Linked DNA regions of Homo sapiens: region 1 is linked to region 2. The links come from fine-mapping of genetic effects on gene expression. A gene starts in region 2. The other region holds a variant in brackets. All regions are shown on one strand. Distances are between the middles of the regions.

Region 1 (8,336 bases), 24 kb after region 2:
GACTTTGCAGGGTACAGCTCCTCTCCTGGCTGCTTTCACAGGCTGGTGTTGTGTCTGCTACTTTTCCAGGCACATGGTGCAAGCTGTCGGTGAATCTACCATTCTGGGGTCTATAGGAGGGTGGCCCTTTTCTCACGGCTGCACTAGGCGAGTAGTGAGTAGTCTGTGTGGGGGCTCCAACCCCACATTTTACTTCTGCACTGCTCTAGCAGAGGTTCTCCATGAGGGCTCCGCCCCTGCAGCTCACCTCTGCTCCAGTTCCAATAAAGTTCCTCATCTCCATCTGAGACCACCTTCAGCCTGGACTTTTTGGTCAGAACCATTCAACAACCATTTTCTAGGAAGCTCCAAACTTTCCCACGTCTTCCTGTCTTCTTTTGAGCCCTCCAAACTGTTCCAGCCTTTGCCTGTTACCCAGTTCAAAATTTGCTTCCACATTTTGAGGTATCCTTATAGCAGCACCCCACTCTATACCATTACCAATTTACTGTATTAGTCTGTTCTCACGCTGCTAATAAAGAAATACCCGAGACTGGGTAATTTATGAAGACAAAGAGGTTTAATGGACACAGTTCCATGGGGTCGTGTCCCCCGTGCTTCTGCCACAGGGCCATATAGACAGCTCTTATCGCGGAGTTTTCCTGCCTCAAATCCTTCAGTGTCCCCTGCACTGGCCCGCACCTTTTTTAAAGTCCTCACCGCAAGGTTGATTCCCGCCCTGGGAGCTTCCCATCTGCTCCGCTCCCTCGTCAGCTCCTGGAGCGCAGCGACGCAGCCCCAGTCCCAGGGAGGCCGTGAACTCTTCCTGGTCCTGGGATCCTGCAGACCCTGCCCCTCTCCTGACTTTCTCCTGCCTTTTTCCTCCTTGATCGGGGGCCCTTCTGCTCCCCAGGCCTCCCCTTCTCCTGATATCGAGTGTGGGGACGTGACTTCTATCTCAGGACGTTAAGGTTTCTCTTGTCCCAAATTCCATCCCACAGGAAATGGGCTCTTGAGGTGGGGATCTGACTGCAGTCCCCTCCCTATGAATGTGTGGAGGAGAGGAAATAGAAAAATGGTGAAATGGGAAAGAAGAATGAAGGAGACCCATAAACAGACGGCAGCTGGGTGCGATGGCTCACGCCTGTAATTCCAGCACTTTGGGAGGCTGAGGCGGGCAGATCACCTGAGGTCAGGAGTTTTGAGACCAGCCTGACCAACATGGAGAAACCCTGTCTCTAAAAAATACAAAATTAGCCAGGCATGGTGGCGAATGCCTGTAATCCCAGCTACTCTGGAGACTGAGGCAGGAGAATCGCTTTTACCCGGGAGGCGGAGGTTGCGGTGAGCCAAGATCGCACCATTGCACTCCAGCCTGGGCGACGAGCAAAACTCCATCTCAAAAAACAAAAAACAAAACAAAACAGATGGCAAAGTAGATGGTGGATGAGGGATTTGCAGAGACAGTGCATGAAGATGCTGAGAAAGGAGCAGGGGGAGAAAAGCAACTAGAGAAATTTAGAGAAAAACTGGGTTTCTAGAGAGATAAAGTTCAGCAAGATAGGGAGAGGGGCAGAAAAGGGGAGGCTCCTCAGATGGAGAGTTGGGGAGAGAAGGAGGGATTTGGAGCCAGGGCAGACAGAGCAGCATGGTGCTGGGAGAGCAAGAGGGGCAGCCAGTGATAAGGAGAGCACAGGGAGAACCACAGCCTGGGGAGAACTGGGATCTGGGGATGCCAGAGAGGGGACAGGTGGATATAGCAGGGAAGAGGGGATTTAACAGGGGAAGCTAGGGGGCAGCAGAGACGGGGGGAAGAAAGAGGCAGAACTATATGAAAATTGGAGACAAATATTGGGCAGAAAGAAGAATAAGAGGTGAAAGAAGTGAGAAAGGAGCAGAACAAGTGGAAGAGAAGGAATAGAGGGAAGAGCAGGAGAAGGAAGAAGGGCTTGAAATGAGGAGAATCCTAGGGGAAAAATAAAGAGAAAAAAAAAGCTAGGAAAAGAAGGTGAGAATGAGAGGTAGGTAGAGAAACACACAGTAATGAGGAAAGAGGGGGACACTCAATCCAGATGAATGATGAATTGATTGGATATTATGATTAATTTCTCTATAATAAACATCACATTTGTTTAAAATATACAGATGAAGATGAGAATTGGAAAACTGTCTATAAGGCATGTGCATTTCCTAATTCTTGGTATCAGAGGTTAGCTTCCATTTGCTGTCCTTATTCTGCCAGACGGCAGGCAGTGACTTGACTCATTCAGGTATGGGTCACTATCTTCACTTCTGGGATGGGGTAGGGTGTGTGAGTGTATAAGATAGGAGGAAAAACCAAAGTGTTTTTTCTACTCACAATCAACACAATAGTGAATGCTCAACACAGAATGCCTCATCTCCGGTCATCAAAATGTGTGGGGATTACTTCCCACCAACAAGCTATTTTTCATCAGATAAAAACTGGGTGTTCTCTAATTGAACTCAATTTGACACCATTTATAGGGAGTTAGCATTAGATCTCACAGGAGGCTGAGGGCTCAGTTGCACAAAACTGCCCCCAGAATTTGCTATTGCTAGAGTGATTTACACAACTTGGAGAAACAATTTACTGAGGTGTACCATTTGTTATAAAGGATGTTACACAGGACACAGATCAACAGCCAGATGGAAGAGCATTCCTAATAAATTAATGGAAACAGAAGTATGTTTTGGAAACCATGGACTGACTTTCTTTCTCTTTCTCTCTTTCCTTCCTCCCTTTCTCTCTCTCTTTCTTTTCTTTCACTTTGACGGAGCCTCGCTCTGTCACCCAGGCTAGAGTGCAGTGGTGCTATCTCAGCTCATTGCAACCGCCACCTCCCGGGTTCAAGTGATTCTCCTGCCTCAGACTCCCAGGGAGCTGGGATTACAGGCGTCCACCACCAAACCTGGCTAATTTTTATATTTTTAGTAGAGACAGCATATTGCCACGTTGGCCAGGCTGGTCTCGAACTCCTGACCTCAAGTGATCTGCCTGCCTCGGCATCCCAAAGTGCTGGGATTACAGGCCTGGGCCACTGCACCCAGCCCAGGGCTTGAGTTTTAAAGGTGCCACAGTAC[A/C]CCTTGGTTCTCTTTTTTTATAAACAGGAATCTGTCTTCCTGACCTGAGTATTATCTCTATGTGGGAGCAAAGGAGAGAGCCCTGGACTCTGGAGAGTGAAGGGAAAATAGCAAAAAAATCCAGATGGGAGGGAATGGATCAAAGGTGTGAACACAGGTAAGAGCTCAGATGGGCAGAGTGGAAGCTGTATATATATATATATTTTTTGAGAGACAGGGTCTTGCTCTGTTAGCCAGGTTGGAGTGCAGTGGCAATCATAGCTCACTGCAGCCTGGAACTCCTGGGCTCAAGTCATCCTCCTTCCTCTGCCTCCCAAACTGGTGGGATTACAGGTGTGAGCCACTGCACCCTGCAAAGCCACACTAATAAATAGTGTTTGGGAAACTCTGCAACTGGGAGAATTCTGTGGAAAACCAATAGTATAAATCCTGTTAGTTTTTTTTTTTTTTTTCTTTTCTGAGACAGAGTCTCACTCTGTTGCCCAGGCTGGAGTACAGTGGCGCAATCTCGGCTCACTGCAACCTCTGCCTCCCAGGTTTAAGCTAGTCTCCTGCCTCAGCCTCCTGAGTAGCTGGGATTACTGGTGCCTGCCACCATCCTTGGCTAATTTCTGTATTTTTAGTAGAGAGAGGGTTTCACCAAGTTGGCCAGGCTGGTCTCGAACTGCTGTCCTCATTTGATCTGCCCGCCTCAGCCTCCCAAAGGGCTGGGATTACAGGTGTGAGCCACCATGCCTGGCCTAAATCCTGTTAGTTTTGAATGGAAATTTTCTTTCTTTCTTTTTTTTTTTTCTGGGACAGATTCTTGCTTCGAGACAATGACAAATACAAACTAGGTTTACTGTAAATATGAGAAAGGGAAAAAATACTTTTATTGTATTAGAAGACTTGAAATCACATGAAGTGATACCAATCTTTTGTTGTTGTTGGTCAGATGTTTTAGCTATTTTAGGTGTTTGGGTTTTTTGTCTTTCTACATAACTGCTAACCTTGTTAGTATCTGCAGAATGCCTTAATTAGGAAAGGTATTAACCCTATGTGTCAGATTTGTATAATTCATATTGCTTTACATGGAGTCTTCCAATAAATGTATATGGTATATGTCTCTATTTGCTGTCTTTGATTTCTTTTATCAGCATTTGGTAGTTGTAACATAACAGTTCTATGAATGTTTTGTTTCACATGTATTTCTTTGCCCCCCCCCTTTTTTTTTTTTTTTTTTTGAGACGGAGTCTTGCTCTGTCGCCCAGGCTGGAGTGCAGTGGCGCGATCTCAGCTCACTGCAAGCTCCGCCTCCTGAGTTCACGCCATTCTCCTGCCTCGGCCTCCCCAGTAGCTGGGACTACAGGCACCCGCCACCACACCTGGCTAATTTTTTTGTATTTTCTTAGTAGAGATGGGGTTTCACCGTGTTAGCCAGGATAGTCTCGATCTCCTGACCTCGTAGTCCACCTGCCTTGGCCTCCCAAAGTGCTGGGATTACAGGTGTAAGCCACTGCACCCGGCCTCTTTGACCTTTTTCTTAATGGAGCAATCATACATAGTATTTTATTTTTAATATCAGGTTTCATGTGCAAATTGCTAGTGTATAGAAATATACAAGATTATTATTATTATTATTTTGAGACAGGGCCTTACTCTGTCATCCTGGCTGGAGTGCAGTGGAGCAATCTCAGCTACTGCAACCTGTGTCCTGCAGGCTTAAGTCATCCTCCCACCTCAGCTTCCCCAGTAGCTGGCACTGCAGGCATGTGCCACCATGGCCTGTTAAATTTTTGTGTTTTGTAGAGATGGGGTTTCACCATGTTACCCAGCCTGGTCTCAAACTCCTGAGCTTGAGTGATCTGCCTGCCTTGGCCTCCCAAAGTGCTGGGATTACAGGCACGAGCCACCATGCCTGGCTGATGAAATATACGATATTTTTGTAGGTTGACCTTATACTTTGCTACCTTTACATTTTTCTTGTTCTAGAGATTTTTGTAGATTTTTTTGGAATTTTCTACATAAAATCATTTCATCAGTTTCCTATTGCTATACACAGTGATTGGCTTAAAACAAGAAAAATTTATTCTTTTATAATTCTGTAAGTCACATATCTAATATGGGTCCATAGTTCTGTGATTCTTCATTAATCTCCAGGGGAGAATTTGTTTCCTTACCCTTTGTAGGTTCCAGAGGCCACTTACATCCTTTGACTCATGGTCCACTTCCTCCATCTTTAAAGGTGAGAAAAAAAATCTCTTTATCCCTCTATTTTCAACACATCACCACTGTCTCTGTCCCTTCGCATCCACCTGCACCCTTCTGATATTGAACCTTGTGATTCTATCACTTTGACCATATAATTCAGGATGTCTATCTAAAGATCCTTATCTAGACCACATTTGCAAACTCCCTTTTGATATATCCAGTAACACAGGTCATAGGGATGTAGCTACCTTCCTTTGGGAAAGGTATTAGCCTGCACAACCAACATATTTTCTGTTGGTACACTATTTTTTTTGTCCTGTCCTCAGGCCACCCTCCTTCCTCAGCCTCCCAAAGCACTGTGATTACAGGCCTCAGACACCACACCCAGCCTGTCACTTTTATTTCTTTTTCCTTTATTTCACTGGCTGGAACCTTTCATATTGTGTGGAATAGTAGTGATAAGAGGGGACATTCTTGCCCTCATCCCAACCTCTAGGGGAAACTATGCTTTCACCAGTTTGTATGATGATTCTGATTCTGTAAGGATTGGTAGGTGATCTTGAGTTGAGGAAGTTTCCCATGATACTGCTTTCCATACTGACCGCAGTATTTCAGATTCCCACAAAATGTACGAAAATAGTTTCTCCACATCCTTGCTTGTGAAGCAGGTTCACTGCACACTGGTTGCCAATGTGTCTGAGTTGAGTGAGAGATAATCTCACGGACACACAGTAAGTTACATGAAGTGAATTTGTTACATACAGATCGGCAGATACCTGGGATTCATGCATTCTGCTCCCCAAGGCTCAGGAAAACCACCCAGTGCAGATGCAGTCTCTCTGTATGTGTTCAACTTGCATCACAGCTGTGGGAGGCTGGAAGGCGGCCCATCCTGGGTTTCATGCTCCAGGGATGCATGGCACGTTGGCCTAAAGCAACAAAGGGGATCCTGTTCTGGGGATCTGGAACACATCCTGTCCTTTTCTCACCGGTCCCTTCCTCTCAGGATGTTGCTTTTCCAGCACATTCTATATTCATTCTTGGGAACTACAAGTGAGAAGTCAGATGCAACTGGGCCAATTCAACCCCACTTGAATGCTGTCCTGCAGTCTCTCCGCCAATCCAGATATCCCTTTTATTTTTATATTTTTTGAGACGGAGTCTCGCTCTGTCTCCCAGGCTGGAGTGCAGTGGCGCAATCTTGGCTTACTGCACCTCCACCTCCCAGATTCAAGCAATTCTTGTGTCTCAGCCTCTCGAGTAGCTGGGACTACAGGCGTGTGCCACCATGCCTGGCTAATTTTTTTTTTTTTTTTTTTTGTATTTTTAGTAGAGACTTCGTTTCACCATGTTAACCAGGCTGGTCTCTAATTCCCGACCTCAGGTGATCTGCCCTCCTCGGCCTCCCAAAGTATTGGGATTACAGGCGTGAGCCACCACGCCTGGCCCAGATATCCCCTTTAATAAAGCTAGTCCATTTACATGTGCACTGACCTCCCTGGATCTGGAGGTAGAGGCTGGTCTCAGGAGATTGAAGTAATACCTCGACTGGCAGAATCTCAGGGCAACATCATTGAGGTACAGCCAGTTGCATTTCACTAGGCTCAAGAGGATTGCTGCCTCAAGCAGGATAACCAGGCCTGCCTGGAGCAGTGCCGTAGTCCAGGATCCCAGTGACCTAGGTGAGAAGTTGGTACTCAGATCAAAGAAAAGTTCTTCAGGTGACCCCACTGTCTGCAGCCAATGGGCCTGCTTGTGGGCCTTATGTATTTGTGTTTCAAAAATAACCTGAGGGCTTGATGTGGGGGTCCTTATCTCCCATGCAAGGTGATTCATGCCTATAATCCGAGCACTTTGGTAGGAGCAGATGGGAAGACTGCTTGAGGCTAGAAGCTGGAGACCAGCCTGGGCAACAAAACCAGACTACATCTCTATTAAAAACAAAGCAACAAACAGTAGAAAATTAGCACAGTGGAGAGGCACAGGCCTTTACTCACAGCTACTCGGCAGGCTGAGACAGGGGGTCACCTGCCCAGGACCCCAGGAAGTCAAGGTTGCAGTGAGCTATGATTGCGCCACTGCATTTCAGCCTCGGTGGCAGAGACCCTGTCTTAAAATTTTAAAAAGTATTAAAAAACTAAGTTGGACCGGGCGTGGTGGCTACTCTGGAGGCTGGGGCAAGAGAATCACTTGAACCCAGGAGGCGGAGGTTACAGTGAGCTGAGTGCCTGCCACTGTACTCCCGCCTGGGGGACAGAGGGAGACGCTGTCTCAAAACAACAACAACAACAAAAAACTACGTCGTTTATGGCTATTTTTATAAGTTACTGGCTTTTTTTTTTTAAAGAATCGGTGACTTATCTTCACACTGGCCTTAGTCCTCCATGCCCAACACGATGTCCCTAGGAAAGTCTCTGGAATTGAGCACAGGGTTGACCTTCACCGTCTAGAGTGAATGGGGAAGATAAATGAAAAGTATTTATCTTCTATGGGCACTGGCATGAAATAGAACATTCTACCCTGGCAGGGTTTTGCATTTCACATTTTAGCTTGCATCATCCCCTTCACAGACAATTCCAAAGTGTGTTAATTCAATTCCTAAAGCTTCCCTTCCCTTCCTCCCTTCCCTTCCCTCCTTACTTTTCTTTCTTGTCCATTTATTTTCGGTTTTTTTCTCTTTCTTTCTTGGTTTTCTTTCTCTTTTTCAACTTCTCTTTCTTTTCTCTTTCTCTTTACTCTCTCTCTTCTCTCTCTTTCTGCTTCCAGGGTAGGTGGGACTTGAAATTCATTTTAATAGAAGGAATTTTCGTGGATATAATCTACAACCGATTTTGCTCTGCGCAGGTAAGATCCGTTTTCAGACCAAAACCCTGAAAACAAGCGCAGCCAGTCAAGCGAACGGAAGCGCAGGCCCGGCCCAGGCTTTGTCCCGGCCCGCCCTGGTCCCAGCCAGTCCGGCCTCTAGGATGCGCGCGCAATTTCGTGCAAACCCGGAAGCGGACCGCGGGGGGCGAACGCCTAGAGCGCAGTTTCCGGTAGACCCGGAAGCCGATTGCAGGGAGAAA
Region 2 (8,336 bases):
ATTGCTTGCGGAGGTTGCAGTGAGCTGAGGTGGTGCCACTGCACTCCAGCCTGGGGCAACAGAGAGAGACTCCGTCTCAAAAAAAAAAAAAAAAGAATTGTGACAGGTGTGACAGGGAGACCTTTCCCAATTAGCCTGTTGTAAAGGGTGTGGGAACACCTCACTCCTGGGATTGTGTCTCTCCTAGCTTTATGCGTATATTATACTATTACTAATGTCTATACAACTGCTCTTAAATGTCTTATTTTCTCTAAGAGGCTCATCCCTGCTTTTTCTGAGAAGCTTTCAGTTTCTGTTCTATTTTTCTGCCCTTAATCTTTCTCAAAGTCACTCATAATCCTCCCGAGTCCTGCAGATTCCCCACTGCTCCAATGCATCACGTCACCCCCTTGTGTTTTCAGCTCTCACAATGTGACATGCAAAGTATGCCGATACTTCTTCCAGTGTCTGAGTTGGGTGAGGCTGATTCTGGTCCCTCCACCAGACGGTAAACATGCCAGAATCATGGGTTCATGTTCTACTCTTTCTTCTTTTCTAGGGAGGAGCTGTGTATTGGGAAGCAATGCAGAAAACAAGCCTATTAAAAATCAACTTGGATTAACCCTTGAGGCACATCTGTCTGAATTGCAGCTGTTTCAAGCCGGAAGGAAAATTTACAGAAGTAATCAAGTTGAAAAGTTTACAAACCATCGTTCCTCAGTTTCACCACTTCAAAAAATTTCTTCTAGTTTCACAACACACATTTTTAATAAATATAGAAATGATCTTATTGATTTCCCATTACTCCCACAAGAAGAGAAAGCATACATTAGAGGAAAATCTTATGAATATGAATGTAGTGAAGATGGTGAAGTTTTTAGAGTCCGTGCAAGCCTTACTAACCATCAAGTAATCCATACTGCAGAGAAACCTTACAAATGTACTGAATGTGGCAAGGTCTTCAGTCGCAATTCACACCTTGTAGAACATTGGAGAATTCATACTGGACAGAAGCCTTACAAATGTAGTGAATGTGACAAGGTGTTTAATCGCAATTCAAACCTTGCACGACATCAAAGAATTCATACTGGAGAGAAGCCTCACAAATGTAACGAATGTGGCAAAGCTTTTAGAGAGTGTTCGGGACTTACTACCCATCTTGTAATCCATACTGGAGAGAAACCTTACAAATGTAATGAGTGTGGCAAGAACTTCAGGCACAAATTTTCTCTAACCAATCATCAGAGAAGTCACACGGCGGAAAAACCTTACAAATGTAATGAATGTGGCAAGGTCTTTAGTCTGCTTTCATACCTTGCACGGCATCAAATAATTCATAGTACAGAGAAGCCCTACAAATGTAACGAATGTGGAAGAGCATTTCACAAGCGTCCGGGCCTTATGGCCCATCTTCTAATCCATACTGGAGAGAAACCTTACAAATGTAATGAATGTGACAAAGTCTTTGGGCGCAAATTATACCTAACCAACCATCAGAGAATTCATACTGGAGAGAGACCTTACAAGTGTAATGCATGTGGCAAGGTCTTCAATCAAAATCCACACCTTTCACGACATCGGAAAATTCATGCTGGAGAGAATTCACTGCGTACCTTACAGATGGAATGAATGTGGCAAAATCTTTAGTTAGAATTCACACCTAGCACAACATTGGAGGACTCAGGAGAAAAACCTTACAAATATCATAAATGTGGCAAAGAATTTAGTTTGCATTGAAGCCTCATCACTCATCTCTTGATCCACACTGAAAGGAAACCCTACAAATGTAAAGTTAATAACATATATAAATAATCTATAAAGAGAGAACAGTTATATCAGAATAGAGCATTTAATGAAAACTACCAGTATAGCATATTCTTGAGTAGGATTCACATTTAACTGCTGGCACCGTAATTTGTAACTCTTTGATTTAGAATGTACATACTTCTCATGTTTTAAGTAATAAAGTTTAAAGTTTTTTTTTAGTTTTTTCTTTTTTTTTTGAGACGAAGTCTCGCTGTATTACCCAGGCTGGAGTGCAGTGGCATGATCTTGGCTCACTGCAACCTCCGTCTCCCGGATTCAAGCAATTCTCCTGCCTCAGCCTCCTGAGTAGCTGGGATTACAGGCATGTGCCACTACTGCCCGGCTAATTTTTGTATTTTTAGTCGAGACGGGGTTTCCCTCCGTTGGCCAGGCCGGTTTCAAACTCCTGACCTCAAGTGATCCACTGGCCTTGGCCTCCCAAAGTGCTGGGATTATAGGTGTGAGCCACAGCGCCCGGCCTAGTTTAAATTTTTCTTAGTGTGAATGAATTACATCCTTTCTACCAGCGTTGTTTAATCTTACCTCAGGAGGATACTTTATAGTAGAGAATAATAACCCATTATGATTTTAAGGTTGAAGCAGCCAGAAAAGTGTGTGTGTGTGTATGTGTGTGAGACATAAAACAACATACGCTTCTGGGTGCAATATACTTAAGTAAGTATGATGTTGAGTAATTACACTTAGTACTTGAGTTAGTTTCTCTGTACTCTGGTGTAGGATGTTTATGTGGGTAAAGTCAAAATCACTTTAATAGTACAATTTCAGCCTTGTACACCCTCAAATGTGTGTGAGTGTTAAAGAGTATGCCCTGTATTGTGTTTCTACATGCCTCTTTCTTGTGTGCCAAATAAGAACTATGGTGTGCACCTTCATTTTCATGCAGCAAAAATATATAGTAATATGACAAATATTAGGAAATAAAGTATGGGTTGAGGGCAAAAATACTGTAACATGGCCGGGCCTGGTGGCTCACGCCTGTAATCTCAGCACTTTGGGAGGCTGCATTGGGTGGATCACGAGGTCAGGAGATTGAGGCCATCCTGGTCAACATGGTGAAACCTTGTCTCTACTAAAAATACAAAAAAAAAAAATTAGCTGGGCCTGGTGGTGTGCACCTGTAATCCCAGCTACTTGGGAGGCTGAGGCAGGAGAATCGCTTGAACCCAAGAGGCAGAGGTTGCAGTGAGCTGAGATCACCCCACTGCACTCCAGCCTGGTGACAGAGCAAGGCTCCGTCTCAAAAAAAAAAAAATAATAATAATACTGTAACACAATTTCTTTTTGTACTTCTAGTGTTCAGTGACATCATTTGAAAATATTAATGTTCACCCATCTTCTTTTTAAGTCACACACAGAAAGGGAATTTTGTTTTGGTACATTAACTAGAAACTTCATATAGTCACCCTCACAACTCTTTTGGTAATTTGAATTTTTGACCACTCTTCTGGAACTTGTTTGAAGTCCCCCTAAGGTTTGGCTTGGATCTTGAGAATGATGATCCCATACACTGATATGGTTTGAGAGTGTTTATTATATAATGAGGCTCTGTGGGGGAAAGCAGGGTATACTTTTCCAGCTGGTCCAAAAGTGGCTTCAGAGAACTGGGATAGGTGACTGGCTTGGGGTGTCATGATTGCTAAAGGGTAGGGCTGGGGCGGGGATACCCACTACCCATACTGGAAACTTAGTTACAATTCACACCTAGCATGTATATTTTTATATTTTTTGTATGTATATATATTTTTACATTTTTTTCCTACATTGCCTCCAAATTCTATGTTTAATACATTTCTTCCCTGTTTTGCTCTGGTGAAAACTTTAGGGGACAAATAAATGAGTGCTGTTTGGAGACAAAATTTTGTGACATGGGACTGGGCATTGTGGCGTGTGCCTGTAGTCCCAGCTACTTGGGAGGCTGAGATGGGAGGATCACTTGATGCCAGGAGGTCGAGGCTGCAGTCAGTGAGCTGTCTGCACTTCAGCCTGAAAGACAGAGGGAGACCATCTCAAAAAAAAAAAAAAAAAAAAAAAAAAAGTTGTGACCTGAGTATGTCCATAAGACAATGGCAGGTATACACTAGGATTAATATAAATATGAAAAAAAAAAAAAAACTTGGCCGGGTGCGGTGGCTCACGCCTGTAATCCCAACATTTTGGGAGGCCAAGGCAGGCGGATCACGAGGTCAGGAGTTCAAGACCAGCCTGGCCAACATGGAGAAACCCTGTCTCTATTAAAAGTACAAAAAAGTAGCCCGGTGTGGTGGTGGGCGCCTGTAATCCCAGCTACTCGGGAGACTGAGGCAGGAGAATCGCTTGAACCCAGGCGGCGGAGGTTGCAGTGAGCCGAGATCGCGCCACTTCACTCCAGCCTGGGCAAAAGAACGAAACTCTGTCTCCAAAAAAAAAAAAAAAAAAAAAAGGAAATTGCACATTCCGCCCTGGCAGGGTTTTGCATTTCATATTTTAATTTGCATCCCCTTCATAAACAATTCAAGGACTTTAAAATTCCGGAAACTAGTGTTTATTATTCATTTATATTTATTTATTTTAATTATTTATTTCCAATTTGTTATTTATGATTATGTATTTATTAGGCGCAAGGTTTCTCTCTCATGCCCAGGCGGGAGTGCAGCGCACGACCTCGGCTCACTGCAGCCTCCACCTCATGGGCTCAAGCGATCCTCCCACCTCAGCATCCGGGTAGCTAGGACCACATGCGAGCGCCCCTACAGCCGATTTAAAATTAATTTTAATAGCAGGAATTTTCCTGGATCTAATCATCAACAAACTTTCCCTCTGCCGGGACACAATCTATTTCCAGATAGCTGAGTTCTTCCAGTCTCCACGGCAGGTCTAGCCTCCAAAACGAGACGAGCTGGGAGCGAGGCGGAGGGAAGCGCAGGCTCCGCCCAATCCCACCCGGGCCTGGCCTCGCCTCGCCTCTCAGCTGCGCGCGCAGTTTCCTGGAGACCCGGAAGCAGATTACGTGGAGTGACGGTCATGCTGCGGCGTGTGAGTTTCCCTTTGTTTAGATTAAATCTGGGATGCTGAGTCCCCTCGCGCTTCTGTACCCGGCATCTCAGGGGTCACACAGACCTTGAAATCCCCGCATCGCTCCCTCCACCCCGACTAAACTCAGACGTTCTAATGAGAGTCTGGCGGTCGCTTCCCTGAGTGTTAAAATCGCTCGGAGGCTGGTCCTGTCCCCGGTCTTTCACCACAGGGCCATGTAGACAGCTCCTGTCGCGGAGTTTGCCTGCTTCAAATCCTTCAGTGACCCCTAGACACGGCCCGCGCTGCGTAAAGTTCTCACCCGCGAGATGGATCCACGTCTTTCCGGTCCCCCAAGCCTCGCCCTCTTTTCACAGGCCTGCCCCCTTTTCTGTGCCTTAAATGAGAGGAAATCGATCTGATGTTTACTGCTGATTGTGATGTTTCAGCCTCCATTGGGCTTTTGCTAACACCTAAATAAATATTTAGTGGACAAAATTAGGTTAGTGCAAAAGTAATGGCAAACCGCGATCACTTTTGCACCAACCTAATATTTATGGGCCGGGGCTGGAATTCCATCTTCTCCGGAGGCCCAGGCTGGAGAATTCCTTGAGCACAGGAGTTTGAGACCACTCTGGACAACATAGTGAGACCCCCATCTCAATTTTTGAAACATATGTTTCAGTACGGGTATTTAATAGAGATTGGAATTCTCGTTTCTATGTTTTTACATGGTCTGACTTTTTGAAATAGTTTGAAATAATGTTTATAAACTGAATTGAGCACAGTTTATACATTTTTATTGTTGCAAACATGCTGAAATGCACATTTGCAAAAACAACGACAGCCAGGCACAGTGGTGCACGCTTGTCATTCGAGTTACTCGGAGAGGGTGTCATTTGAGGCCAGGAATTCAAGGCTGTAGTGTGCCATGAATAAGCCACTGCACTGCAACCTGGACACATTAAAAAACGAACAAAGACAAATATCTAAAAAAGAGGTTATTGACAGACAACTCTTTCAGTTGTCACATATATGTTTACTAGAGTATATGTGTGTGAATGTATATATGTATATGAATAAGTGTGTACATGTGATGTGTGTGGATGAGTGCACAGATGAGCAAGTCTATTGTTTTTATCAAAGGCGCATCATCAGTTTATATACGTCTTATATCTTTTAACAGTTGAAATTACATCTTATATATTTTCATGACCTTAAAATTGTTCTACACTGTTATGATAGTGAGTCTATGGCTGTAAGGATAGTAACCTGTTATGGGGATACATGTGCGACAGTTTCTTGATTTTAATCCCGGAACTTATTTTAACTATACTCAGTTAGGTCATTGTCTGTCAATTTACTTTTGATGCTGATCTGTTATTGTTTGATGTTTTTTTTTTTCTTTTTCTGAGATGGAGTCTCTCTTTGTCACCCAGGCTGGAGTCTCGCTTTGTCACCCAGGCTGGAGTGCAGTGGCACCATCTCAGGTCACTGCAAACTCTGCCTCCCGGGTTCAAGTGATTGTCCTGCCTCGGCCTCCCAAGTAGCTGGGATTACAGGTGCCCACCAGTACGCCTGGCTAATTTTTTTATTTTCGGTAGAGATGGGGTTTCACCATGTTTGCTAGGCTGGTCTTCAACTCCTGACCTCAAATGATCCACCTGCCTTGGCCTCCCAAAGTGCTGGGATTGCAGGCATGAGCCACCACGCCTGGCCTAATTCTTAAAGTTTGATTCTAATGCCCAGACTCCTGGGATCTGGCGCTTACTCTGCCATTTTTAGCCTTCACACCTGGGGCAAGTTTCTTAGAATGTCTGAGAAAGAGTTGTCTCTTCAATAGGATGGGAACAGATTGTTCTTTTATGGGCTTTTGTTGTTATAGCCGTTAGTACATGTACAACATTTAGAAAGTGCCTGTCACATGGGAGGTGTTCAAAAGCTTCATCCTGGCTGGGTGAGGTAGCTTACGCCTGTAATCCCAGCACTTTGGGAGGCCGAGGCGGGAGGATTGCTGAGGTCAGGAGTTCAAGACCAGCCTGACCAACATAGTGAAAACCTGTCTCTACTAAAAATAGAAAAATTAGCTGGGCACAGTGGTGGGTGCCTGTAGTCCCAGCTACTCGGGAGGCTGAGGCAGAAGAATCACTTGAACCTGGGAGGCGGATGTTGCAGTGAGCCAAGATTGTGCCACTGCACTCCAGCCTGGGCAATAAAGTGAGACTCCATCTAAAAAAAAATTATATATATTGTATCTGACGCTTCTATAGAAATAACTGTGGGTTAATTTTTTGTATTTCTTATGTTGTCCACAAAATTAGAAATCTCTACTAATTTTTTTTTTTTTTGGAGACAGAGTCTCGCTCAGTTGCCCAGGCTGGAGTGCAGTGGCACCATCTCGGCTCACTGCAAGCTCCGCCTCCCAGGTTCACGCCATTCTCCTGCCTCAGCCTCACGAGTAACTGGGACTACAGGCGCCCGCCACTACGCCTGGCTAATTTTTTTGTATTTTTAGTAGAGACAGGGCTTCACCATGTTAGCCAGGATGGTCTCGATCTCGTGACCTCATGATCCACCCGCCTTGGCCTCCCAAAGTGCTGGGATTACAGGTGTGAGCCACCGCGCCCGGCCTAGAAATCTATACTAATTTAAAGAATATCAGGTTGGGCATGCAGTGGCTCATGCCTGTAATCCCAGCACTTTGGGAGGCCGAGGTGGGCGGATCACGAAGTCAGGAGATCGAGACCATCCTGTGTAACATGGTGAAACCGCATCTCTACTAACAATACAAAAAAAAAAAAAAATTAGCTGGGCGTGGTGGCGGGCGCCTGTAGTCCCAGCTACTCGGGAGGCTGAGGCAGGAGAATGGCGTGAACCTGGGAGGCGGAGGTTGCAGTGAGCCAGGATCGCGCCACTGCACTCCAGCTTGGGCGACAGAGCGAGACTCCGTCTCAAAAAAAAAAAAAAAAAAAAAAAAAGAATGTCATAACTTCTAATGGAGAAGTATATTAAAACACAATTAGAAACATATAACTAGCTAAAAAAATACCTTAACGTGGATTTGTCAGAACATCCACTTCAATCAAGTCAGTCCTTACAACTGTCTCCTCATTTTGTGTGATATCCTGTTGGTGAAATGTGTTTTTCATTTTAGGGACACTTGGCATTCAGGGACGTGGCCATAGAATTCCCTCAGGAGGAGTGGAAATGTCTGGACCCTGCTCAGAGGACTTTATACAGGGAAGTGATGGTGGAGAACTACAGGAACCTGGTCTTTCTGGGTGAGGATAATGTCCCTTCAGAAGTCAAGATCTGCCCTGGTGTATTTTTGCATTTTGTCGTGTGCCTCTTAGCATCTTAGGAGTCACTGTATTGCTTGACTGAGATTGAAACCCTGTTGACTCAGAAATGAAAACCTCCATAATGCTTTATAATGCTGTATTTTTCAGAAACAATAAGCTCCATAATACTTTCTGGACTTAAAATAATTGCTTTCTTCAGAATTCTGGCCCCTTTGAGATTCATCATTGAGTGGTACC

What was found.
Region 1: its variant is fine-mapped to the expression of ZNF880 in whole blood (TOPMed, PIP above 0.99).

Annotation. Positions count from the first base shown.
Region 1 is chr19:52,389,551-52,397,886 of GRCh38, forward strand. It overlaps ZNF528-AS1 (ZNF528 antisense RNA 1), which reads right to left and starts at 8,207. Exons shown (of 7, transcript NR_125345.1): 1 at 7,912-8,207; 2 at 7,645-7,717; 3 at 7,060-7,202; 4 at 6,815-6,949; 5 at 6,048-6,200; 6 at 5,241-5,297. ZNF528 (zinc finger protein 528) reads left to right here and starts at 8,299. Exons shown (of 7, transcript NM_032423.3): 1 at 8,299-8,336. It also overlaps a transcript of ZNF880 not described here. RefSeq lists an enhancer at 7,611-8,336. The variant A/C (reference allele first, on the strand shown) is at 3,082.
Region 2 is chr19:52,365,160-52,373,495 of GRCh38, forward strand. It overlaps ZNF880 (zinc finger protein 880), which reads left to right and starts at 4,764. Exons shown (of 4, transcript NM_001145434.2): 1 at 4,764-4,818; 2 at 7,952-8,078. The coding sequence starts at 4,807. It overlaps ZNF610 (zinc finger protein 610), which reads left to right. Exons shown (of 6, transcript NM_001161425.2): 6 at 539-2,619. The coding sequence ends at 1,608. RefSeq lists enhancers at 4,446-4,745, 4,756-4,865, 5,066-5,205.